Linked DNA regions of Homo sapiens. The protein of the gene in region 1 purifies or fractionates together with the protein of each later gene. This does not show direct contact. Each region holds a gene or a part of one and is shown on either strand. Other genes may lie near its edges.

The links.
Region 2: the proteins of SLC6A15 (region 1) and IQGAP3 purify together in Homo sapiens (affinity purification with mass spectrometry; one large-scale study listed by BioGRID and IntAct). This does not show direct contact.
Region 3: the proteins of SLC6A15 (region 1) and TEX2 purify together in Homo sapiens (affinity purification with mass spectrometry; 3 studies listed by BioGRID and IntAct, with this or other methods). This does not show direct contact.
Region 4: the proteins of SLC6A15 (region 1) and ACSL4 purify together in Homo sapiens (affinity purification with mass spectrometry; 3 studies listed by BioGRID and IntAct, with this or other methods). This does not show direct contact.
Region 5: the proteins of SLC6A15 (region 1) and SEC62 purify together in Homo sapiens (affinity purification with mass spectrometry; 2 studies listed by BioGRID and IntAct, with this or other methods). This does not show direct contact.
Region 6: the proteins of SLC6A15 (region 1) and AGPAT3 purify together in Homo sapiens (affinity purification with mass spectrometry; 3 studies listed by BioGRID and IntAct, with this or other methods). This does not show direct contact.
Region 7: the proteins of SLC6A15 (region 1) and TMTC4 purify together in Homo sapiens (affinity purification with mass spectrometry; 2 studies listed by BioGRID and IntAct, with this or other methods). This does not show direct contact.

Annotation. Positions count from the first base shown.
Region 1 is NC_000012.12:84,871,300-84,874,799, reverse strand, and holds part of SLC6A15 (sodium-dependent neutral amino acid transporter B(0)AT2), read left to right. Parts: intron 1-1,471; coding exon 1,472-1,713; intron 1,714-2,005; coding exon 2,006-2,198; intron 2,199-3,500.
Region 2 is NC_000001.11:156,569,766-156,573,991, forward strand, and holds the start of IQGAP3 (ras GTPase-activating-like protein IQGAP3), read right to left. Parts: upstream 2,801-4,226; 5' UTR 2,765-2,800; coding exon 2,728-2,764; coding exon of another isoform or gene 2,713-2,727; intron 1-2,712.
Region 3 is NC_000017.11:64,260,461-64,264,453, forward strand, and holds the start of TEX2 (testis-expressed protein 2), read right to left. Parts: upstream 2,801-3,993; 5' UTR 2,708-2,800; exon of another isoform or gene 2,267-2,707; intron 1-2,266. UniProt on the Homo sapiens protein: During endoplasmic reticulum (ER) stress or when cellular ceramide levels increase, may induce contacts between the ER and medial-Golgi complex to facilitate non-vesicular transport of ceramides from the ER to the Golgi complex where they are converted to complex sphingolipids, preventing toxic ceramide accumulation.
Region 4 is NC_000023.11:109,684,758-109,688,257, forward strand, and holds part of ACSL4 (long-chain-fatty-acid--CoA ligase 4), read right to left. Parts: intron 688-3,500; exon of another isoform or gene 670-687; intron 1-669. UniProt on the Homo sapiens protein: Catalyzes the conversion of long-chain fatty acids to their active form acyl-CoA for both synthesis of cellular lipids, and degradation via beta-oxidation. Preferentially activates arachidonate and eicosapentaenoate as substrates.
Region 5 is NC_000003.12:169,990,807-169,994,306, reverse strand, and holds part of SEC62 (translocation protein SEC62), read right to left. Parts: intron 1,714-3,500; coding exon 1,244-1,713; 3' UTR 1-1,243. UniProt on the Homo sapiens protein: Mediates post-translational transport of precursor polypeptides across endoplasmic reticulum (ER). Proposed to act as a targeting receptor for small presecretory proteins containing short and apolar signal peptides.
Region 6 is NC_000021.9:43,969,723-43,973,222, forward strand, and holds part of AGPAT3 (1-acyl-sn-glycerol-3-phosphate acyltransferase gamma), read left to right. Parts: intron 1-930; coding exon 931-1,084; intron 1,085-1,665; coding exon 1,666-1,768; intron 1,769-3,500. UniProt on the Homo sapiens protein: Converts 1-acyl-sn-glycerol-3-phosphate (lysophosphatidic acid or LPA) into 1,2-diacyl-sn-glycerol-3-phosphate (phosphatidic acid or PA) by incorporating an acyl moiety at the sn-2 position of the glycerol backbone.
Region 7 is NC_000013.11:100,636,796-100,640,295, reverse strand, and holds part of TMTC4 (protein O-mannosyl-transferase TMTC4), read left to right. Parts: intron 1-1,441; coding exon of another isoform or gene 1,442-1,615; intron 1,616-2,273; coding exon 2,274-2,366; intron 2,367-2,593; coding exon 2,594-2,758; intron 2,759-3,500. UniProt on the Homo sapiens protein: Transfers mannosyl residues to the hydroxyl group of serine or threonine residues.

The DNA.
Region 1 (3,500 bases):
AGTTCAGAAACTGGGCTGCTGGTAATGTCTTTAGTTAATAGGTCTTTTCTGCCATCTAGTGGCTAAAGCAGAGATAGACAGTTGAGTGTATTTTAATAGAATATGATGTAGCAATGGTCAGTAAACAATGTGCATATGTTAATTGTTCATAAATTATGAAGATAATCATGATTATGTTTAATAAGCATATTTCATAGATTTTAATAACCAAAATTAGTTGAAGCAATACATCCTATTGTTTGAGAGAATATGGATTTTGGAATCTACCTATGTTCTTATTTCATCTCTACCTCAGAGCTGCTGTGTAAACTTAGGCAAGTTACATAACCTTCCTAAGAATCAGTTAATAGTGGCAACAACTTCGTGGGTTGTTGTGAGTACTAAATGAGTTAAACCATATAAAATGCTTACCGGTGTGTATGCCGCTATAGCTCATCTATGTTATCGGTTACTGAGCATTTTTAGAGTGTGGTAGGCACCGTGGTAAGTGGTACACTTCTTATTATTCTGATCTTTCTGAAGAAGCTGAAACTCAGAGAGGACACGCCATTTGCCATTGTTTGCACTATTTTAAAATTACTAAATGGCAGAATCAGAATCTGAAACTCTCTGTAGAATTCGTGTTCTTAGTCATGTTTGACATTGCTCTCAATAAAGGCAATTTGATTGTAATGGCAAAAAGAGATAAAATGCCAATTTAAACGCTATTATTACTGAAATCAAAAGGAACTGTTTATTAAGATCTGGGCCACACTTGGCTGATCTGAATTGTTTCATTTAAGTTTTGATTATATACAGTGATAATTATCTAAGACATAAAGCACAACTACATGAAATATCTGTTCAATATTTAATATCTGTTCAATGTCAGAACTTTGGATCTGAAAGAGTATCTTATAGACAATATAGGTGAATTTCTTCAATTTTCAAAGAAAAATCTTTTAGCAGACTTTTGAATGAATGAAGAATACATATGTGAATATGCAAAGTACAAATAGTTCAACTCTGCGAAGTTTATAATTGTTTTCTGCTTCGACCATTAGATTAACAGCAGAAAACACAAAACATGGAGTGTTAGTGAAGCAACTATTAACTTTTATTGGTAATTGACCTGTTTTGCTATGGAAAGAAAAAAAGACATAATGGGAAATGATTGAGGATAATTAATTTTTCTTCATATTCTCATTTCATATTTCCTTTGATATTCTTAAAATATTTAAAAACCACCATGTAAGTAGAAAATCCCCATGTACTTAAAATCTCCATGTAAAGGACTGATCAACTTTCTTACTCATAATTATTTGTTTCCTAAAAATAGATGTTTATGCTTAAGAACATATTATTTCCCGATTTAAATAAACTTTGGATGCATAAATATCATTGTATACTCCATAAACAGTAAATTCCATAAAAATTAATTATTCTGAAACATTATTTTGTAGCTGATTCTATTATGTTTATTTTTAAACAGCTTGAAATAATGCTGGAGCCCAAGGTCTGGAGAGAAGCTGCTACTCAAGTGTTCTTTGCCTTAGGTCTGGGATTTGGTGGTGTCATTGCCTTTTCAAGCTACAACAAGAGAGACAACAACTGCCACTTTGATGCTGTCCTGGTGTCCTTCATCAATTTTTTCACTTCTGTCCTGGCAACATTGGTGGTGTTTGCAGTTCTGGGCTTCAAAGCAAATGTCATAAATGAGAAATGCATTACACAGTATGAATATTAATTTCCATTTGCCTTTTTTCTTAGTTTTTATCTTGTTATTTATACTTTTATTGATACATGATAGCTATACATATTTATGAGATACATGTGATAGTTCGACACAAACATACAATGTATAATGGTCAAATCTGGGTAAATGGGATAGTCATCACCTCAAACATTAATCATTTCTTTGTGTTGGGAACATTGCTCATTCATTAGCTTATAATGGCATAGTCGTTCACAAACTATACACCAAAGAACTCTTATGTGCTCATTTGTATGTTGTTTTATTTTTCAGAAATTCAGAGACGATCATGAAATTTTTGAAAATGGGGAACATTAGTCAGGATATTATTCCCCATCATATCAACCTTTCAACTGTTACTGCAGAAGATTATCATTTAGTTTATGACATCATTCAAAAAGTGAAAGAAGAAGAGTTTCCTGCTCTTCATCTCAATTCCTGTAAAATTGAAGAAGAGCTAAATAAAGTTAGTAAGCCATGTTTGAGCAATAAAATAATTATCATTCACTTGAAATATGCATTATCCAGCAGACTCCCTTCAGGAAAAGGGCCTTAAAATGCCCGAAGAAGCTCTTAAAATGCCCGGAGAAGCTCCTGGGCATTATAAGTCCTTCAGAATTTACATTCTTAATTTTAGAGAATATGTTTTCTTAAATGGTAAAGATTTGCTTTATTTTAAAAAGTTATTTCATTGATTGAGCCACAATAATTTAAAATATGAATATAAAGTGATTTTCATCATAGAATGATGATTAGTCTGAAATCTTTCTTGCTATAATTTTCAATACAGAATTAGAATTATGGCTCTCATTTACACATACATGATTGCTTTGATGCATGAATAATATTTAAAATAGAAATTTTAATAGTTGTGTTCCACAAGTCATGATCAAGTTCTTTTTTTTTTTTTTGAGCCGTAGTCTCTCTCTGTCGCCCAGGCCGGGGTGCAGTGGTGCGATCTTGGCTCACTGCATCCTCTGCTTCCCAGGTTCAAGCAATTCTCCTGGTCAGCCTCCCAAGTAGCTGGGATTACAGGCACATACCACCACACCTGGCTAATTTTTGTAATTTTAGTAGAGACGGGAGAAGGCGGTTCACCATTTTGGCCAGGCTGGTCTCGAACACTTGACCTCATGATCTGCCCGCCTTGGCCTCCCAAAGTGCTGTGATTACAGGCCTCAGCCACCGTGCCCAACCGATGAAGTTCTTTTTCTTAGCTATGTTGTATTAAATAAGAAATAGGTCACCATTAATAAATGTCCTTATATTGGCTGCCACTGTCTCCTGTATGTCGAAAAGGAAAATATAATGGAGAAATTAGTCACTAATTATTTGCTTTAAGATAGTTAACTGTACTTGAGACTAACATAAAGAATCATGTGTGGATATTATTCATTAAAAAGTAAAGCCATCATTAATATAAAAACCTTGAATTCCTTAAGGAAATATTTAATTAATTACTAATGTACCGTTCAAAGTTTTTTTTTTTAATTCTCATCTGTCTTTATGAGACAACACAACTTGAAGTTTGGTTATAGGTACAGTTAGTTAGACAAAGTAAGTTGTTATTTTACAACTCAATATTTGTGATATTTATAAAATAAACTCACATTAATATTTGCAAGTAATTCAATTTCTTTCTGCCCAATTGGAGTATCTGTCTTTTTATTCATTTTGTTATTAGTTTTGACTGGAAATTCATTGTGTCTTCTGAATTATGCAAACCAGTATATCAGCCCAACTTTTTTTTTTTTTTTAATCAGGGAGG
Region 2 (4,226 bases), on another chromosome or scaffold:
GCCTTGGCCTCCCAAAGTGCTGGCATTACAGGCTTGAGCCGCCACCATGCCCAGCCGAAACATCTTCTCAACAGACTTGTTTAGGCAACCCTGCTCAGAGACCTGAAACATCTCCCATGTGTCCCTCCTTCTCTTCCCAGGATACCCTTTAATAGGCAGCCTCCTCCTGTGCTGGAGGCATTACTTCTCTTTCCTCTGTAGCCATCTTCCTGTCCTCTTCCTCCTCAAGTCTACTCATGGAACTTCCCTCAGTACCTCCCAGCTGGGACATCCAGAGCCTTCCTTGGCTTGAAACTTAACTCCTTTTCTTATCCCTAATTAGACTGAGTTCTCCAAGAACTGGACCTGTGTCATCCTCGTTGGTTACTCTCTCAGAGGTGAGGTAATAGAACCAACCAGAATTCATCATTCACTCATTCATTCATTCATCAATACCTCCTTTATGCCAGGCACTGGACTAGCAGACCCCTACTCTTAAGAAATGCAGAGATAAAGGCCTGCATGGTGGCTCATGCCTATAATCCCAGTACTTCTGGATGCTGAGGTAGGTGGATCGCTTGAGCCCAGAAGTTTGAGACCAGCCTGGGCAACATGGTGAGACCCTGTCTTGACAAAAAATACACAAATTAGCCTGGTGTGATGGTGCAAACCTGTACTCCCAGCTACTGGGCCTAGACCTGAGCCCAGGAGGTCTAGGCTGCGGTTAGCCATGATCGTGCCACTGCACTCCATCCTGGACAACAGAGATATTGGTGGGTTTGTTTTGTTTTTGAAACAGGGTGTCACTCTGTCACCCAGGCTGGAGTGCAGTAGTGCAGCCTTGACCTCCTGGGCTCAGGTGATCTTCCCACCTCAGCCCCCCCACCACCAAATAGCTGGGACCACAGGTGCGCACCACCATGTCTGGCTAATTCTTGCGTTTTTTGTTGAGACTGGTTCTCACCATGTTGCCCAGGCTGGTCTTGGACTCCTGGGCTCAAGTGATCCTCCCGCCTTGGCCTCCCAAAGTGCTGGGATTACAGGCGTGAACCACAGCGCCCAAAGATTATTATCAGAAGAGAAAAACATCTGAATAAATTAATCTAACATGATAAGTATGATTATAGCCCATGCATAAAATCTATGGGAGCAGCAGAGGAAGCAAAGGATTCTAGCTATGAACTAGATCTTAAGGAATAAATAGGCGGAACACAGGGAAAGGCAGTCCAACAGAGGGAAACATGCCACTCACTTGGGATTAAGTGGAAGGACAAAGAAAATTTTAAAAGATCACAAAGGTATCTTCACTATCCTTTTTGGTATAGGTCACCCGAGGAGGAAAAGAATCTTCAAGCTAAATAAAATACAGAGTACTGATTCCAAAACTCAAGAATAGAGAATCCCTCAAGTGAGACAGCAATCATAATTTGCCTTAGTTACAGTCTCCCTTAATCCTTCTCCCTTCTCTCCCCTCTCTCTATTCTCCTTAGAAACACAATACAAAATCAAACAGAAAGAGTAAGAGAAAGCTACACACACAGTAAGAAAATAAACTCAGAGAGCTTGAAAAAAGGCAGAGCTTAGCCAATCTGTCTTTGACTCAGCACTTAATGTCATTCCCGGTTGTTATCCTATTTCCTTATATTGCATATTCTGCAATGATTCAGGGAAGGGCAGAGCTTATATGAATGAGCAGTTAAGTAAATTAAAACACATGCGTGCACACACACACACACCCCTCCAAATACAGATTTGAAAACACTGGCCAACCACAGGAAAGCCATCAGTTCCTCCAAGGGGGTGTACAAGGAACAAGTGTTGGTTGTTAAGCATGGAAAATAAACCAGTAAGTGAATGACATCATCTCAGAGTTATGAACTGAGGACTGTGGGCGATGGGAGGGATTTTGTACATACACATGCTGTCTCAAAAAAATAAAAAACCGAAAAACAGTTTTCCTGTCCTTCTCAGGTCTGGAACTAGTTTTCCTTTAACAGAAGACTGGACATGGACTTTGCTCTTTGAATCCTAATAGAAAGGAAGGGAGTGGTGGAAGGAGCAGGTTTTCCTTTCATTCAGAAAATCAGATAGAACCTTTCTGCCCCACCCATCCTTCCAGCTCCAGTCTCTCTCTCTAAAACAGTGTCTTTGAAAATGTGGCCCAGGGACTACCTTCCTCACAATCACCTGGGGTGAGGGAAGAAGCACAGCAGTGCTTGTTATAAATGCAGATTATGGGCCCCAAACCAGACCTTCTGGAACTGAAGCTCTGGGACAGGTCCCAGGAATCTGCATCTCAAACAAGCTTCCCGGGTAATTTCACCCCCTGTTTGACAGGCATTGTCTGAAAGCGGCATCTCAAAGCCTAAGAGTCCCCCAGATCCCTTGAGGCGTCTTGTCCGGTGGCATCGCTGGGCAAGTTTGGTAGCCAGCAGTAACTGCTGAATTTCAAGGAGCCATTAGGATCACCTACATTCTCCCGACTCCGGAACCCCAGAACTTGGAAATAGGAAGAAAGTTCTTTGTAAGCTTTAAAGCGCAGCACATTAGTCAGGGGACAATGCGCCGCTCACAGTTCCACTCGGGCCCACGGCGCCCGGGCTGAGGATTCCCGTCCCACTGAGCAGTCCCACCGCCCTCGCCCCTCAGGCTTCACGCCCGACACACGCCCCAATCTCTCCCGGGACAGCCAAGCCCCCGACCAGCGGCACCACTGCGAGACCCTTCTCTGACCCTCTCCGCACTCACAGGCTGCCCAGCCTGGGCCCGCTGCTCTCCTCTCCATGTTCCTCCTTCTTCCAGGTTTGAATCTCCCGCCGTTGGGCCACCGCCCCTCACCGTCGGCACCGCCAGACAGGACACTTCCCGTCCACACCGCTGAGAATCCTGGGATTTGTAGTTCCCGGCCGCGGAGCCGGGCCGCCCAGGTGCTGGGAGAAGAGGCGCCCCAGGCCGGGGCAGTACCGCTCCCCTTACAGCAGTTCCTCGTCTTGTTCCTTCCAGGCTCCTTTTCTGCTTAACAGTCTTATTCTAGCTGCTGCCCCTGCCATTGCCTCTGTCATCTCCACCTAGTATTCCCATTAACCCCTACTCTGCTTCCTATGTGTTCCCGAGTCCGGCTAACTTGTGGGCCTACTTGGCGCTATGCACTAAGCTAGGTGATGCGAATGCAGAGATGTATGAGGGCAGTGAATGCTCTAAAAGAGTTTGCTGTTCTGGCACAAGTGATAGACATATAGTCAAATAAATTAGAGGTCGGTGATGCACAGAGGGAGGGGGTCATTGCTGTGAATAAGAGCAGCGAATGACAGGGAAGACGTCCTGGTGGAAGTGACAGCTGATTTGGGTTGAGAAGTGAAAGAGAATTCATCAGATTGAAGAAGAGAGGCAGTGCAGTCAGTGGAGACAGCATGTGCAAGAACGAGGAGGTGAGTTCGGGAACTTAAACTTGGTTCAGTTTTAGAGGAGAACAAAGCTCAGCCAGGGAGAGGCCAGAAGGGATCCTGGAGGCACAGGGCCAGGTCCAGTAGCACCTTGGGCACCATGCTAGGGCCCTGGCATGGGGTCTGGTGAGCAGTCACCAGCCAAGGAACACTTTAGACATAGGTCAGAGCCAGATTTGTCCTTTAAAAAGAGCCATCTTATAGCAGGGGATTGGAAGGGGGTGAGGCTAGGGGCAGAGACCAGTTGGAAGGCTACTGCAGTAGCACAGAAGAGAGATAATAAGAGCCTGAACTAGGCCAGGCACGGTGGTTCACACCTGTAATCCCAGCACTTTGGGAGGCGGAGGCGGGCAGATTAACTGAGGTCAGGAGTTCAAGACCAGACAGGCCAACATGGTGAAACCCCATCTCTAGTAAAAATACAAATATTAGCCAGGCGTGGTGGGGTATGCCTGTAATCCCAGGTACTCCGGAGGCTGAGGCAGGAGAATCGCTTGAACCCAGGAGGCAGAGGTTGCAGTGAGCTGAGACTGTGCCACTGCACTCCAGCCTGGGCGACAGAGTGAGACGCCGTCTCAAAAAAAAAAAAAAAAAAAAAAAAAAGAGCCTGAACTAATAAAAAATAATTATGACACCAACAACTATGCTGAAAAAATATTATCTGATAGGTTTCCCCATCTTGTATTTCTCCTTTTACCCTTTCCCCACACTCCATCCAAACAACCAAGCAGCCTAGGCTTATAGCTTGGGCAGGTAGGAGAGGAGAATGTGAAAGAACAGAAAACAGAAATCCATACCTAGAGC
Region 3 (3,993 bases), on another chromosome or scaffold:
TGCCTGGCCCAAAAAGCACGTTTTTTGAATCAATGTCCTAGACTGACATTCTTGCTCCACCATCTAACCAGCTTGTCACCTTGGGCAAGTTACTACTTTGCTCTGAGCCTCGGTTTCCTCTTCTGTAAAATGAGGCTATCACACCTCCATTAGAGGGCTGCTCTAGGACTGGAGAGGATATATACATAAGGGGCAGAAAACAGTACCTGGCTGAGTTGGAACTCAACACTGCTCTCTTTTCTATACTAGTCTTCTGCCTTGGGACAGAATCAAAGAATAAGCATTCCCTGTGACCTCAGCAATTCCCAAGGAGACCTTCAGGAGATAAGGATCAGACAGAAGAAAGCAGACCCTGAGGGATATTCAGGCAAAGAAAATGAACTAGAAACACCTAGAGAACAAGAGACAGTGTGTGTTTAATGAACTTCCTAACTCTGAATGAATGAATTGACAAATGGAAAAAAAGAAAGAACAGGCACTTTCCATCAAAAGATACCAGTCAACAGACGTGAGGATTAATATAATTTTATATTGAACCTGACACAGAAAACTGGTCTTTGAAGATTCACTTTGATACTGAAAGTAATCTACAGTGAGGAGAATTTCCCCATTGCTCTGTTCTCATATTAAGTAATAAACTGTGCAGTTCTCCCCTCTCTTTCCTCAAGGGATTCAGAAAACCTTCCAGAAAACAGAAGCATTTGACTTGAAGGAAAGGCAACTAATATGGCATATAGAAACAAACTCTTCATCCTTTAAAAACAAAAAAACCCTCCATCATTTCTATAATGTCTAGCAGTTTCTGGCATACAGCAAAATTATTATTATTTTAATAAATAATTTCTTTTTTAACTCCAGGCAACTGCTTTTTGTCCAAAACATGCTACGTATTTATTCTATCGAAAAGCCTAATCTTTCCTGCTTCTTCTCCAGAAGCATTCTAACATAACCTCTAATAATGAACATTATGTTTGGTATATGCTGTGTCTAATCTTCTCTCACGATGACATAACTTGCTCTTCAGACCTCCAACAATCAGCCCAAACCAAACTCCTGAATTTTTCCTCCCTCCTCGTCTGTCCCAGCCCCTCGGTTGCTTGTCAGTAGACTCAATTACCACCATCTTCTGATCTGAATCAATTTGTTAATCTCCTTCCTCTCAGGCACAGTGCCTTTTACTGGAGATAAACATGCAAGCAAGTTCAGTTCACCCAGAGCCCTCCACATCCTCTCCCTCCAAGCCTTCACACTCCCAAAGGGGCCCAGAAAAAAAAGAAAGAAATGATATGGCAAAATCCCACTCTATCCACATCACCTCAGGGGGCTTGTTTACCATAACTTTAGACCAACTACCATTTTTGGGGAGAATCTGAAAGAATATTGTTTATGGGCTAGGTAAGAGCTAACAGAAATGGCAGTTTCATTCTTCCAATATGAGACAAGCGTCTCTGTGTGACCCAGCCCTAAAACTCACAAACCTAGACTCCTCAAACTCCCCATACTCCAGAGTTCAAGGATAACCTGCCCTCCATTTTTCCTTATTGTTTTCCATATAAAAGTCACTCGTTGTTTCCCCTCCAGCTTACACCTGGCTCCTGAAATGACTCCTCTGAATCCTCTGAGAATCCTCAAAACATGTAAAAGCCTCATTCCTTTTAATGCATGTGCAGAGCGGTGATGGTGTGAAGACGCTGGCACTTCAAACGTGAACGTGGCACGAGCCCTGCCCTCAAGGAGCCCACAATTTTCCCTCAACTCTAAAAAAGGATGTCCTCCCTGGACAGTGTCTGTAAAACACAGTGACAAAGTACTTCATAGCTCTGGAGAAAGAGCGAGGGTGGAAACAGACTTTGCCCTTACATTTGACGCCCAGTAACCATAACAACCGATGGTTTAAGTAACTATCAACCCACTGAGGGGCTAAGTTTTCCAAAAATCGTTTTCAAAAGGGGAAGACTCCCCTGCACCAACTCCCATGGCAGCCGTACGCTCTAGGCAGCGTGTGGTGCAATGTGGCCAGCCGTTCCCCGCCTTCTCCGGTTCCACCGTATGGTTTCCGTGCTCAGCAGCCAGCAGCGACGGCGTCCACGGCCACACCGCCTCCCCGCAAGGCACCTGGCGCTAGGCCTCAGCCCAATGTCACTTGTTAACCTTCCGATCCCCCGGATTTCGGCACGCCGCCGCCTCCCTGCTAAAGCACACAAACCACCCCACCGCCACCCGCGTTCTCCAGGAGTTGGAGAAAAACCACCGGGGCGCATACAACCTCTGACAGATTCGAGTAAAAGTAACTGCGGTTCTCGACTTTCAAGCATTTCGCGTCGCCGGTGAGGGGGGCGGCAGGAACCCGGGGCCCCATTCATAAAATTGCAAGCCGTTTTCCTCTAGTTTGCGCGTGACGGTGCCTCCCTGCCCGGGGCCGGGGACCGCAGGCTGAGGGGACGGGGCCGGCAGCTCCTCCCGCCGGAGTCGAGCCCGAGCCATCCGGCGGGGCCCCGAAGGAAGGGATTGCCCGGGGGTGTCGCGGGTGGGCGTCCCCTTCAATACCTGAACCATGACAGCGGGGTGGGGGGCCGAGCCCCGCCACGCCAAGGGCCGCCGGACCCGACCGGTACTTTGAAGCCCGCGGGGTCGATCCGCGCCCAGCCCGGGCCTTATCCGCGGGGCGCTCCCTCCACCGCCCCCGCCTGGCCCTGAGACTGCTCACCCAAGATCCGCTGGCTGCCTCATTGTACTATGCCGGCGCCCGTGCTCCCGGCCGCGCGACTCCGGCTTCGGCTGGGGCACCGGCCGCGGTCCTGCTGCCCTGCCGCCCGCCCGCCCCCGGGCACACGCCGCCCCGCCCCGCCGGCGGACCCGCCCCGCGCCCGCGGCCGCCGCCGCCAACCAGAGGGCGCGGGGGCGGAGCAAACGGCACGCCAGGCCCAACCAATCCAGTTCTACCGCGCGCCGAGGTGAGGCCGCGGAAATGGGGGAGCGATTTGTCAGGTCTGTTAAAGGGGCCACCGCCCTTGGAGCTAGGGAGAGGAGTGGTGGGGAGGGTTACCTGGAAGAGCCCCAGGTGAGGGGGACAAAAGCTTCACTCTCCCAACGGGGCTGCACACTGTCCCCAGCTCTTTGCACTTCTTAATTTCCTCTTCCTGCAGTCTAGCAGCAACAAGTGCCCTTGAGACGAGGGCTGGGGGTTGAGGTGGGGTGACTGAGGCGCGGAGAACCAGGGGTATCCCCCTGGGCAAATTCACTCGATTTGCATTTTAGAGGGCCATCAGACGTATCTATCCCCATCCAACTGCAGACATTGATTTAAAAAGGCAAATTCCCAGTTTCCCGCATTATGTACTTCCCCCACCTGACTACCACACTACCACATCCTATCCTGAACTAACTCTGTTACTAGTTTTTTTGTTTGAGACGGAGTCTCGCTCTGTCGCCAGGCTGGAGTGCAGTGCCGTCATCTGGGCTCACTGCAACCTCCGCCTCCTGGGTTAAAGCGATTCTCCTGCCTCAGCCTTCCGAGTAGCTGGGATTACAGGCGCGTGCCACCATGCCCAGCTAATTTTTGTATTTTTAGTAGAGACGGGGTTTCACCATGTTGGCCAGGATGGTCTCGGTCTCTTGACCTCGTGATCCGCCGGACCCAGCCTCCCAAAGTACTGGGATTACAGGCGTGAGCCACCGCGCCTGGCCACGAGTTCTTAGAGCTTAGAACTTATATAGTATTAACTACTCATTTTTAGAGAGGCAATATCTGAGGCTCAGAGAGGTAAAGTGACTTCTCGAGGTAAATTCTCACTTAGAATGAGCTTCCTGGGATGGCAATGCCCATTGTGCATTTATCTTCTGCGAACCTGGGTTGGCTGGCAGAAGCACTGGCACATAGGGAGAGTTCCCCCTTCCCCCGTAGTCCTTGCCCCTCTGCACTTCCCACCCACCACAAGAAAGGACCAAGACAACAAACAGATGTGTCAGTGTGTCTCCTGCATTAGTGGGTCC
Region 4 (3,500 bases), on another chromosome or scaffold:
TGTTGGGCATCTAGAAATGAAAGAGGAATGGAAGGTATTCCAGGCTCAGGGACCATATGAAAAAAGATACGAAGGTGGGAATGAAAGGACTTTGGGAGAATAGGAAGTACCAATAGCAAGGACACTAGTCTGACTGGGGCACAGCATACACTAAATACGCTAAATACGCTTGACTAAATACGCTACGGTAGTTACAAAATCTAACAAATCAGGCAAAGTAATTTTGATTGGATTATGTGGAAAGCTGGGGGCTGCTGCAGGTTAGAAAAACAGTGCCATTGGAAAGAAACCGCAGAAACAGGCTCAAGAATAGTAATATTTCTTTTCTTTCTTTTTTTTTTTTTTTTTTTTTTGAGACAAGGTCTCACTTTGTCACACGGGCCAGAGTGCAGTGGCATGATCTCAGCTCACTGCAACCTCTGCCTCCCGGACTCAAAAGATCCTCCCACCTCAGCCTCCCGAGTAGCTGGGAACACAGATGTGCATCACCATGCCTGGCTAGTTTTTTTCCATTTTTTGTAGAGACGGGGTTTTGCCATTGTTGCTCAGGCTGTTCTCAAAATCCTGGACTCAAGCTATCTGCCCTCAATGGCCTCCCAAAGTGCTGGGATTACAGGCGGGGGCCACCACACCCGGCCCAAGAATAGGAACATTTTTTAAGGAGCTTACCTTCAACTGAGAAAGCTACTTCGGTGAGTTGTAGCATATTTCAACCAGAAAAATCAAAATATTAGTTCACTTTGAAGAGACAAACTGAAGCCCATCCTTCTGCAACTTTTGTAGAAACAGACTGACAGACTTAATTCAATTGACCCCAGGCTAGTTGATTGTTTTTATACCATCTAATATAAAATGGTAGCTTAATCCTGCCTGTGCCTTTGTTCATGTAATTTAGTTGAGTACAGTGAAATGAGAAAGAAACTGGAAGTCACTGGGTGTCAATCCTCATCTCTGCCCCTAACTGGCTGTGTAACCTTGAGCAAACCATCTACCTCAGTCTGGGACCACACTAGATCAGCAGGCCTTAACCTCTTAGAGATGATGGGCCTTTTTGAGAATGAGAACGAGGAACCCAATTCCCCTCAGAAAGACATGCTAAATGATACACACAATGTCAAGTGATTCACAAGTTCCTTGAAATCCATCCATGAACTTCAAAGGGCAACAACCCTGAACTAAAAATGTCTGGCCTAGGTGATTCTTAGGGCCTTTCCAGCTTTAAATTCTATGACTTACCCTACTTGGAAAGTACCTTCTTAGTCTCTCGGACAAGTCTGGTCATTCATTTCTTCAAGATAAGGTATGTCATGTCAAGGGTTTATCATAATGCTGAATGTAAGATCCCCTCTAACAATCCTCTCCTCCCACTGAAGATTTCATGGCTACCCAAGTCCAGAACAATCTTTACTTTTTCTAATTTCACACATCATTAGCAATATCTACCACTCAATCTGATACATGATTATACTACCATCACTTCCAAACTTCTGGGTACCACAGTATAGAACACGGACCAGTAGTTCTCAACCATATCAAACCCAGTACCTCTTTCTTATGACAAATATTTTGTGATACCTCTTCATCAACATCAAAGGATAGTCATAATCTACCAACACACCATTTTAAAAAATGATTTCTTACTGGTAATATAAAAGAGTACCATAAAGAAACTAATTTAAAATTTAACAAAATACTTGTTTCAATACATACATTCTCAGAGACAATATTAGCAGACATAAAAGCATGTCTTCAGATTTATAAAATGCCCCTAAGGGGTGAGTACCACCTTACCCTCAATTGAGAAATCTTCAGGCTTAAGGCTGAAAATATATAAAGAAACAGAAAATAGCTTTTGAAGAGCCTGTACTTTAGTTGGATTTAAAATGCATTGTATGTTTTTTAGTTATTGATGTTACATAAATTTAATCTTTTATACATATTTGCCTTAAGTCTTAGAGAAAGAGAAATGCTTTCTAGGTAATCCTCATAGTGCTTAGTACAGACACACACACACGCATGCACACACACACACACACACACACACACACAGTAGGCAAGGCTCAAAGAACATTCAGGTGAGAAGAAACCAGAGAGATCATTTAGTCTAGAGGTTTTCAAATTCTTTCTGCAGGTAGTGAGGGGGTCATGGGTCATCCATTTGAATAAAATCTTATATAGATATAAAAACACAAGCGTAGATGAAAGCAAAAAGCATAGCTGCTCTGGTAGAGGAGGCTATGACAGCCCCTGAAGGGACTCCTTGGAACTTCCAGTTCAGCTGAATATTTGAACCACTGATATTGTCTGAGCCCTCATCTTACAGAGAAGCAAATGAATGGCAGAGCACAAATCGAGCACCCAGTGCTCTTTCAAGTACACTAGCCAGCCTCTGCCCAGTTTTGCCTATCATCTTAAACTATAATACTTCCTTGTCAGGGGTTATACTCAGTCTATTGATAAATTCATTTCAAAAAAGATTTAAACATTTCATTTCACTTCAAAAAAAGAAGAGTTGGTGGTAAGGGTATGATGCTGAGCATCGTACCCATCATTAGGCAAAATATAATGTCTCATAAGAGAAACAACAAAAATTTTCTAGGCTAACAGATCTGGGTTTAAAATGTGGTTCTATGCAGCCATAAAAAACAATGAGTTCATGTCCTTTGCATGGAGATGGATGAAGCTGGAAACCATCATTCTCAGCAAACTAACACAGGAACAGAAAACTTAACACTGCATGTTCTTACTCACAAGTGGAAGTTGAACAATGAGAAAACATGGACACAGGGAGGGTTACATCACACACAGGGGCCTGTCAGGGGATGGAGGGCTAGGGGAGGGATAGCATTAGGAGAAATACCTAACGTAGATGATGGGTTGATGGGTGCAGCAAACCACCATGGCACGTGTATACCTATGTAACAAACCTGCACGTTCTGCACATGTATCCCAGAATTTAAAGTATGATTTAAAAAAGAAAGCTCTATATTAGTGGCTTCATCTGTAAAACAGGAATACTGCTTATATTACCTACTTTATAGTGCTTTTGTGAGAAACCTTTGTCTTCTTCCTCTTAAATTCCATAGGCAATCATACTCAGTCCCTCTTGGTTGTCTCACTTGGTTGTACTTAATCATCTCAACCACAGCCTGGTTCTATCCTATCCAATTCTCCACCTAATCTGTACCTGTACCTATGCAGCTGAATTTGCTGTGAGAAACACATGACTGTGTTGAGTGTCTCACTTTAAACTTGTGATTGCTACCTCAAATGGACTCTCCCTGATGCAGAGAGACCACACCGCACTAGTCCACTCACTGGCCCACTCCTCTGGATTTCATACTTTACTCTCTTCAGACCACCAACATTCCTCATCCAGACTTATTCTCAGCAGCTGACCTATTTTGCAGACAAAACAGCAACAATCCAAAGATAATTTCCACAGACTCTCACTGCTACATCTACCCACCTAATCAAATCTGTGGCCACATGCTGTTTTC
Region 5 (3,500 bases), on another chromosome or scaffold:
AGTATAACTCCAAGGAATGATTATGCTCATAAGTAAACAAGAGTTTCCAAAGACTTGTAACTAAGATGTATAAGACGTAAAGTCAAACTGCAAAACTAGTTCAAAGCAATTAGAGTCCAATAGTTCTCTTATGTTTTCTTTCATTATCTTTATTTTAAATTTGATATTTTAGAATAGGAAATTATCTTTCACAGCAATGCCTCCTGGTCTGATAATACAGTATCTCATTTCTGAATGTAAAGATTTAAAATAAATCAAAATGAACATTAAGGCGTACAAAGCTACTTTAAGTCTGCTCTTAAGATCAGTTTTTGCTCATATTCAAAATACATGGAATGTTGGCACAAAACTGAAGCTGCTGTAGAAAGATCACAGATGTTCTGTGGGTTACTCAAACTTCCATTTCTCTAAAAACATACCCTTACATGGTCTTAATTTTATGAATTTAAGTGTTGAGAAATATCTAAATAATAAGTAACAATTAAAATAAAATGTTTTATTTGTAAATTATGTACAGAATACACTTTACGTTACGCCAATGAAATGGGGAGGGAGGAGGGAGAGCCATCACCTTCCAACAAATGCTGTTCACTTTCTCTGCTGGAGACGACCATCTTTCTCTCAGTCAGACGTACAAATCAGTGTGGATTTCCTACATTGGAAAAATAATTTAGCTAAACCAGAAGTGTTGCTGCATTGTTACTAGTTGGCTTGTTTCCACAAAATAGTTTTGAACTCTGCTAACTCAGAATCTTAAAAGAAATCTCCTGGTATAATTTTATAATGAAAAATAAAAACTATCAAGGACAATGAGTTTACACATCTTAAAGAAACTGTGAAATGGCTACATAACTATGCATAATGTGAAATGTTGGAGTTTCTTTGTTCCTTTTAAAGTTATTTTTGATTAGTCTAACAGTAAAAAGCCATAAAACTATCAAAAATTGCCATTAATGTAAATTTAACTGTGGAAAGTACATCTTTGATAACTGTCAAAATGAATGAGACCTACTTACTGTAAAATTATCAAATGGATAAAACATATTAATGGCTTTAAACTGTACCAATAATAGTGCCAATATTCTATAAAATGAAGGACCGAATATAACTGCTTGAATGTCAAATACATTTCAGTAGATAGATTTAAAGAATGCTACAAATGCCATGTGTTCAATATGGTAATCAGCCAACATAGAAAATCCAACCTCTTGTACTTATTCATTCAGTCCCAAAATTAGTCAGATTATGATTTTTCATGTGAAGATTTAGGTGTTTCTCCATCATTTTCCTCTTCCTCATCCTCTTCACAATCCCCATCTGTTTGCTGTTCCAGTTCCTCTTTTGTTATCATTTCAAAATCATTTCCATTTCCACTACTGTGCTGGGATCGATCATCTTCCCTCCTGTCACTGTCCGTGTCTGAATGCCGTTCTCCCCCCGAGCCTTCTGTTCCATGATTTCCTGGTCCTACTTTCCCCTCCTCATCTTCCTTTTTCTCACTGTCTGACTTTTCCTCACTGTCGGACTTCTGTTGCTTTTTGGTTTCAGACTTCTCATCTTTCTTTAAGTCTGCTTTTGGTCCTTTGTATTCATGTGTGTACAGAGGCCTGAAGGAGTCAATGAAGCCCACATCAGCAGTCAGATTTGGCAAGAACCAAAAGTGGTGCCTTCCTCCAGTTATGAGCCAAATGATGAGAAATAGAATGCATCGAGCTGTGGGGAGAAAAATTTCTCTAATTGAGTAATTCAAACACTGCCTCAGAAGGGAGTATTTGTTAATAAAAAGCTGGGAAAACAGTTTTATTATCTGCACATTTCATACACCTTAAATATTAATATTTAAATCCTGATTAGTGCTGGGCGTGGTGGCTAAACCTCTAATCCAAGCTACTTGGGAGGATCACTTGAGCCCAGGAGCTCGAGGCTGCAGTGAGCTATAATTACACCACTGCATGCCTGAAAACAAAAAATTCCTGACTAGTTTAGCAGCTATCACGGTATTCTAGGGGCACAGAATGTTGCTCTGAACTTGAGGTCACAATGCAATAATGTCACTGAAAAAAATTACTTCTTTTTTCCATCTGGGTGTACACTTACATGGATATACACTTCTGATTTATGTACTTTGTGATATTATGCTTCAATACACATAGCAATCAGTTGGGAATTTAAGTATTCATAAGATCATGGTGTAGGAAAAGAATAAAATAAAGAGATGAAAGGTGTTTAGGAAGGAAGCCTTTAAGAAGGAAAAGCAGGGCTGCATCATACTTCCCAAGGCCCTAGGCCCTTTTGCCTTTGTAAGGCACTTACTCCACAAAAACTATTAAATATTATATTTTCTATACATTTATGACTATATTTTCTGTACATCTGTATAAACACGAATAAAATACTGTATAGGTTTGCTATTACATACATGTATATACATTACTACTTCTGATTTAAAAGAAATAAAAATGAAAATATTTCTGTGGACCCCTATATGTATCTTGGTCCAAGGCACACGTTTACTATGCCTAAAGGATAAATTAGCCCTGGATAAGGAACCCCAGTATTAGAAAGTTTCCATCTTTTAATCCTTGTTTTCTTATTTATTTATTGAGGACAAGGTCTTGCTCTGTCACCCAGGCTGGAGTGCAGTGGCACAATCATGACTCGCTGCAGCCTCAACCTCCTGGGCTCAAGCAATCCTCCCACCTCAGCCTCCAAGTAGCAGGTACGTGCCACCATGCTCCGCTAATTTTTGTATTTTTTGTAGAGATGGGGTCTTGCCAAGTTGCCCAGTCTGGTCTTGAACTCCTGGGCTCAAACTCCCAAAGTGCAGGGATTACAGGTCTATATCTATCATTTATTTATCTAATCTCTCTCTCTCTATCTATCCTCCCTCTCTCTCTACCTATCTACCTACTTTGATAGACAGGTTCTTGCTATGTTGTCCAGGCCAGTCTTAAACTCCTGGCTTTATGTGATCCTCTCACCTCAGCCTCCCGAGTAGTTGGGATCGCAGTTGTGAGTCACTGAACCTGACCTTTTTGTTTTATTAGTTAGGTAAACTATGTAATTTTTGCTTAAAGACCAATCCTCTCAATATTAGGAAAAATACAATGTTAATGAAAGCAAGATCACTTAAATACATAAGGTTTACTCTTTTATAACACTGTATTATGAAAAAACTGTAGAAAAATGGAATTTGAATTTTAAAATTTGTAGTAATGAGTTATCACAAACCCCAATATTTAGTTTTCTCTGAATTTACCAATTATGTAGAGCTGAGTGATTTTTTCCTGTTTTTTAAAAGGTCATGATGATTATGTGAATGTTACAGACTAATCAATTATGACAGGAGTTTTGGTTTTTGTTTTCTTTAGACAATTCTGTCACTGTTTTCATATAAAGCCTGAAATAAGCTAATCTATGTGTCTTCCATTATTTTGCTTTGTATAAATGGAAGAAAATCGTTATAGCTGTCTTGACTTTTAAAAATAGCAATTTTTATT
Region 6 (3,500 bases), on another chromosome or scaffold:
AGTCTCGCTCTGTCGCCCAGGCTGGAGTGCAGTGGTGCAATCTCGGGTCACTGCAACCACCACCTCCCAGATTTAAGCGATTCTCCTGCTTCAGGCTCCCAAGTAGCTGACATTACAGGTGCGTGCCACCACACCTGGCTAATTTTTTGTATTTTTAGTAGAGATGGGGTTTCACCATGTTGGCCAGGCTGGTCTCAAACTCCTGACCTCAGGTGATCCGCCCACCTTGACCTCCCAAAGTGCTGGGATTATAGGCATGAGCCAGCTTGCCAGCCTGCTGTTAGCATTTCTTTTTTTTTGTTTTGAGACAGAGCCTTAGTCTGTCACCCAGGCTAGAGTGCAGTGGCATGATCTCAGCTCACTGCAACCTCTGCCTCCCGGGTTCCAGCAGTTCTCCTCTCTCAGCCTCCAAGTTGCTGGGATTACAGGCACTCACCACCACGACTGGCTAATTTTTGTATTTTCAGTAGAGACGGGGTTTCACCATGTTGGCCAGGCTGGTCTTGAACTCCTGACCTCATGATCCACCCGCCTCGGCCTCCTAAAGTGCTGGGATTACAGGGGTGAGCCACCACGCCCGGCCTGCTGTTAACATTTCTAACTCATGCTGTGGCAAGTCGATGAAACCCTCTCTGTTTTCACACTGCTCAGAGGCTGCTGCCCCAACACACCTTCATGTTTCACTTCTTTCTGGAAAGTTCTTTCTGGAGAGCTCTCCTGTGTGAATGAACGTGTGTGACTGGAGTGCAGACTGTGGCCCTAGAATAAAAGAACCTTTCAGTCATAACCCATGCTGCTCGCTAAAGCGGTTCCAAGATTTCCACAAATTCAGCCACAACCTTTGCTGCCTGTCAGAGAGGCAGGCCTGGCCTGGACATGCACCCACCCCAGCTGCTCTGTGGAGTGACCCTGTCTCCGTGTTGATCCTAGTTTCTCCTGTACTGCGAGGGGACGCGCTTCACGGAGACCAAGCACCGCGTTAGCATGGAGGTGGCGGCTGCTAAGGGGCTTCCTGTCCTCAAGTACCACCTGCTGCCGCGGACCAAGGGCTTCACCACCGCAGTCAAGTGCCTCCGGGGGACAGGTAGGCCCCAGACTGCCCGAGCCGGGGCCACCGCTATGCTCACGGAAAATAGTGATTTCTTTAAAAAAAAAAAAAATGAGTGCATTCCATGTGAAACACAGAAGAACAGAAGTGCAAAAGGAATCAAGTGAGGGGGTCGGCGCCGCAAGGTTCCCGCGTCAGGTTTTGAGGTGATAAAATGCTAATTCATGAGAAACAATTAAAATAATAAAAAATACATAATGCAAAACCTTATGAAGGGAAAATAATCATTATTGTATCTTATTAATCCAAAAGGAGTCAAAATAAAAGAAAGGGACAAAGAACAGAAAACAGCCAGACAGCAGGGTCACACTCACAGCGTCAGTACCCATGGGAAACGTCAGCCACTAAATGCCCTCACCAACAGAGAATGGGGAAAAAAGAGGGGGAAAGAAAACTTAGAGAAGAGGTCCTGGTGTGTTCTCCCCAGGACGGGGCCAGACCCCTCACGCGTTCTCCCCAGGACGGGGCCGGGTCCCAGGTGGAACTTGCTTTTCCCTCTGGCAGTGACCATGCAGCCGCCTGGGCTGGGTCATTCACCCTCCCGTCTCCTCCCACAGTCGCAGCTGTCTATGATGTAACCCTGAACTTCAGAGGAAACAAGAACCCGTCCCTGCTGGGGATCCTCTACGGGAAGAAGTACGAGGCGGACATGTGCGTGAGGTGAGGCCAGACCCTGTGGCTCTCGCGCCGCCCCCCATACCTTCATGAGCTTGCGCTGGGCAGAGGCCAGGAGGGTGGCTGGGTCCAGGCCCCACGTCCCACAGCCCCGCAGGGTGGAACTCACACGGAAGGCCTGTCTGCAGCCCTGCCCTGCTGAGCAGACACAGGAGAGGCCCTGCAGGACTCGTCCGGGGCTTGGGTTGCAGGCCACGGAGAGGACATGGAGACACGGGGGATGTGTGGGGAGACTCACCATTGCCCACGGTGTGTTTCATTCCTTTGGGGAAATCATTGACCTGGCTTTCGAGGCCACCTCCATCCTCTCCTTCTGCCTCCTTGGGAAGCCCCTGTAGTTCCCTCTGTAAGATGCTCTGTCCCTTTGTGGGCTTTGTCTCAAACCCCACTGGGCTCCATAAGTCTCCTGGGGCCCACAGTCACACGACCTGGGGGGCATACGGTGCTGACTTCTCACCGAGGGGTGAAACCCAGGCAGGTCTCTTGGTGGGCAGGACGGGACCACCTGCGGAGCCCCTGGCCTGAAGCAGCGCTGGTGATGGGAGTGGCTTTCTGCTGGCCCTGGTGATGGCAGCCGCAGCACGCGAGGGACCGCAGTGTCTGAAGGAGACAGTGGTGAAGGGAAAGGAAGAGCCTGTTTGATTTTTTTTTTTCTTGGAGACGGAGTTTCACCCCATCGCCCAGGCTGGCATGCAGTGGCTCAATCTTGGCTCACTGCAACCTCCGCCTCCCCGGTTCAAGCAATTCTCCTGTCTCAGCCTCCTGAGTAGCTGGGATTACAGGTGCCCACTACCTCGCCTGGCTAATTTCATATTTTTTTAGTAGAGACAGGGTTTTACCATATTGTCCAGGCTGGACTCGAACTCCTGACCTCAAGTGATCTGCCTGCCTCGGCCTCCCAAAGTGCTGGGATTACAGGTGTGAGCCACCACGTTGGGCCGAAGAGCCTTTTTCAAACCCTGTCTTGAGAGTTGGGGCTTCAGTGCTATGGGGCCCCAGTCCTGTCCCAATGAAATAAAATGGGAGTGGCGTGTCTAGACCCCAGGAGGAGCCTGGGGCTTGCTCTGCAGGGTACCAGCGGCTTTCCTTGGGGCAGTGTGTCTCTTTCCCCACACAGTCAGGGCTGTGGGTGCCGCCACCAATCCGTTGCTGCCCTTGGACTCTCCAAGCTTCTCTGGCTCACATAGAGGAGAAAATCCACCCAGAAATCCTGTTGACTTAAAACACAGGCTGGGGTTGTGACCTTGATTCCAGCACAAATCATCATTTCAGGCAGGCCTTTGAGGCACGAAGAAACCGTGCGCTGGATGGCCCTTGTTGAGCTTGTCAGTCTCTGGTTTCATTCAAGTGTGTGCGGAAAGGCAGGGCCCTCCTTGCCACATGTAAAGCTGCACAGAGCGGTCACTATATGTGTTTCCATATTTGCAATCCAACCACCACCAACTGAGTGTGCGTCCTGATCAGCCGAGCCTGCCCACGGTGGCCACAGGCCCTCTACATTCTAATCTCGAGAGCCTGAGCATGTACAAATTAAACGAAGCAAAACGACACCACCCAGTTCTGGCCGTACTATAGGAGGTTTCCAGGAAGGGTTTGTGAACATAAACATAAGCTAGGTAACACTCCTTTCTGAAGTTCAAGGACTGGCTGATTAGAGGCGGAGGCGTTCTTCTCCCGACCCGGGGTCAGTGGGGCCACGAGCTGAGAGTTCTCTCCC
Region 7 (3,500 bases), on another chromosome or scaffold:
GTTCTGGGTTTGTGGGATGTTTAGTGGCGTCCCTGGTCTCCACCTACTAGATGCCAGTGGGACCTCTCAATTGTGACAACCTAAAATGTCTCCAGACAGTGCCAAACACCCCCCTGGAGGGCAAAATCGTCCCTGAGAACTGCTGGTTTTAGAACCTTTCCCTAATACGAAGTGTGGTTTGAGGACCAGGAGCATCAGCAATATCTGGGAGAGGGTTAGGAATTCAGGATCCCAGGCCCCACCCCCTCCCCAGGCCTGCTGAGTCGGAATTTCCATCTACAAGGTCCTCGGGAGGCTCCTCTGTGCAGTACTTTATTTTTTATTTTATTTTATTTTATTTTATTTTTATTTTTATTCGAGACGGTTTCTCTCTTGTCGCTCTGGCTGGAGTGCAGTGGTGCAATCTCAGCTTACTACGACCTCCACCTCCCAGGTTCAAGCAATTCTCCTGCCTCAGCCTCCCGAGTAGCTGGGATTACAGGCACATGCCACCACGTCCAGCTAATTTTTGTATTTTTAGTAGAGACAGGGTTTTACCATGTTGGCCAGGCTGGTCTCGAACTCCTGACCTCAGGTGATCCACCCACCTCAGCCTCCCAAAGTGCTGGGATTACAGGCGTGAGCCACCACGCCAGGCCTCCTCTGTGCCGTTTTTCAGGAGCAGGAGAGAGTTCGGTTGAATTTACATGAATAAAGATACAGTGAAAGGTAGCTATTCTCAAAAATTGGATTAAAATGGGGCCATTTTGATGATGCATTTAAGAAGGAAGGGGGCAGTCTTGTGTTTGGCTCAGGCCTCTTCACCACATGAACCTGCCACCCCTTGGTAACTGTCCTGCAGCTCACAGGAAAACTGTGAGAAGACAATGGCTGCTACGCAGGGAGCATCTGCCTTCTAGAAAGTGGTTTTCAACCAGGCAGAAACGGTCTTCTGTGACCCACTAAGATCATGTCTCACATGGGTGAATAAAATCAGAATTCTTTGAACTGATTAACCCAGCACTGGCCCATGTATTAGATAATTAGTGGCTCCCAGCATTTCTGGGAGAGGGTTAAGTAGGGATGTCATCCTTGCTCTGAAAACCACAAATTACCACTGACTTCTGATGATGTGTGATCTCCTTTGCCGCAAAGAAGATCATATTAAAGAGACCCAAGTCATTTAGGGGCAGCTTTAACAATATCCACTGAGTATGTGCAGACTGCTTTATCCAGATTGGGCAGGGAGTTCTGTCGATGACACTGCCTGCAGCAGTGACATTTATAGAAAGTCCATGGCAGGAGAGAGAATAGAATCCAGGGCCCATCTCTCCTTTCGCCTGTAACTACAGGTTTAATTTTACCGGCTAGAAAGTAACTATCGTGGTGCTATTGGAAACTGTTAACATAGGTGGACTGCTAATTGAAGTTATTTGTTGTTCCCCTCATGGGTCATGGACAGAGCTGTAAATTGATAGAGGTGGCCGTCCTCCACACCACGGCCCTGCCTGGCAAAGGCCTGCTCTCATCAATGTGTGGTTTCCAAAGTCACCCTGTCCATCTCCATTCCAGCCAGCTGGAAGGGGAAACCAAGTGGGAATGTGTGCCCAAGTTTTACAACCAAACATCCAAAATGGTACGTGTCGCTTCTCCCACATTCCATAAGGCTAGAACTCAGCCCCGCAACCTAGTTTAACTGCAGGGGAGGCTGGGAGATGTCATCTAGTTGTAACCCAGCGAGAAAACTACTGGACAACTAGATTTCTGCACAAGAGATCTCCAGAGCTCCATTAGAGATTATCATGTGTGTTCATCCCATTTCTAAAGATGCCAAAGTGCACTGGCACTTAAGGTTCACTTACATGGCTGGGTTTTTGAGGTTGATGGCTGCCTTTATCTTCCAGTATGATTACTGCCCAGGAAAACACTCTGTTGCATGAACTAAAGGACTGTTTTATAGTGACCAAAAAAAGTGGGGAGGGGGTATCTCTCGAGGGCTTTTCCTAGGAATCCCAAATTTCTAGCTATCCTGAATCTTGTAGAACTCCTACACGCAGACTGTGAAATCATTACTATCAGGGGCTTACTAAATAATAAATATGATCTATTACCTTGAGCTAATTTCATAGAAACGTACGGCTGTTATGTGTTTTTTTAAAGAGCTGCAGAGGTCTTCCGTGATTCTCTAGTCTATGTGTTCCTTGTCTAGATTGAGTAATGAAATTGTGAAGTGTAATTGCTGCCTAACACAGCCAAGCTCTCCCGTGGCTGATTGTCTTGCTTTGCTTTCTTAGGGTTTAAATGCGGTATTTGACATCTTGGTGATAGGCAAATTCAATGTTCTGGAAATTGTCCAGAAGGTACTACATAAGGACAAGTCATTAGAGGTGAGTCTGTACTTTTATCTCCAGCCCAGACATGGAAAATGTCAAGTACCAGCTGATTTAAAATGCCATTCTCAAATATTCCTTGTGATTTTGAATTCTACAATAACCAGCCTTTTAAAGCACAGTGTTGAAGCAGTTCAGGCAGAATTGCTGCACATCTGTACCTGGCTCAGCCACACTTTTATGTGAAAATCAGCCACCTCTGGGGCTTTGCGATGTCCTTGCAGAATCTCGGCATGCTCAGGAACGGGGGCCTCCTCTTCAGAATGACCCTGCTCACCTCTGGAGGGGCTGGGATGCTCTACGTGCGCTGGAGGATCATGGGCACGGGCCCGCCGGCCTTCACCGAGGTGGACAACCCGGCCTCCTTTGCTGACAGCATGCTGGTGAGGGTGAGTTCTGAGCCTGCCGCCCCCTGGACTCTTTTCTTCCCCCACCAGATTCCCAGATCCCTCACCCCTCCTCCTCGTCTCACTCCTCTGCACGCCAACAAAATCCCCAATACACGCGCCACCTCCATGTTTGCTTGCGATCACTAAAGATGTTCTGGGATGAAAGCAGGTCTTCCTGAGGGGGTTGAAAGGGCATGCAGAAGCTCCTTGCATTTCCGTTCTAACAAGGAGTAAAGAGGGTGGTTCCTTCTCACATCAGGGTCCTTGCCAGTCCCGTGAAAGGGCTCCCTAACCCTGTGGCTGGGTTAAGGCTAAATATAACCTTCTTGGTGGTATCTTTAGAAGACTAGTGGTGTCAAGACTATTCTTTTAGATTTGCCTTTTTTCTAAAGGCAAGGGTATCAAGCCACAGATTCTTAGCTGTGCATTTCATAGAGACCAAAATCAAGAGAACAGCCATCGAAGCCTGTTATGTTATTGGGTGTATAGGTGACCCTGGGTCCTCAGATTTAGAGGTCACAGGCTTCAGGCAGCAAATAGATCATAGCTTTGCCAGAAATATAACGAATGTATTGCATAGTCTGATGGCTTTGCCATATTTTTATATACCAAAATCTGAATACATTTAATACATTTTTACAGACTATAGTCACATACCCAATACACGTTGGCAACATTTTATTTGATACAACTGCTTTCATTGAGCAGAAGCATATGAGTGCCTCCAAAGTGAAGTTAGTGC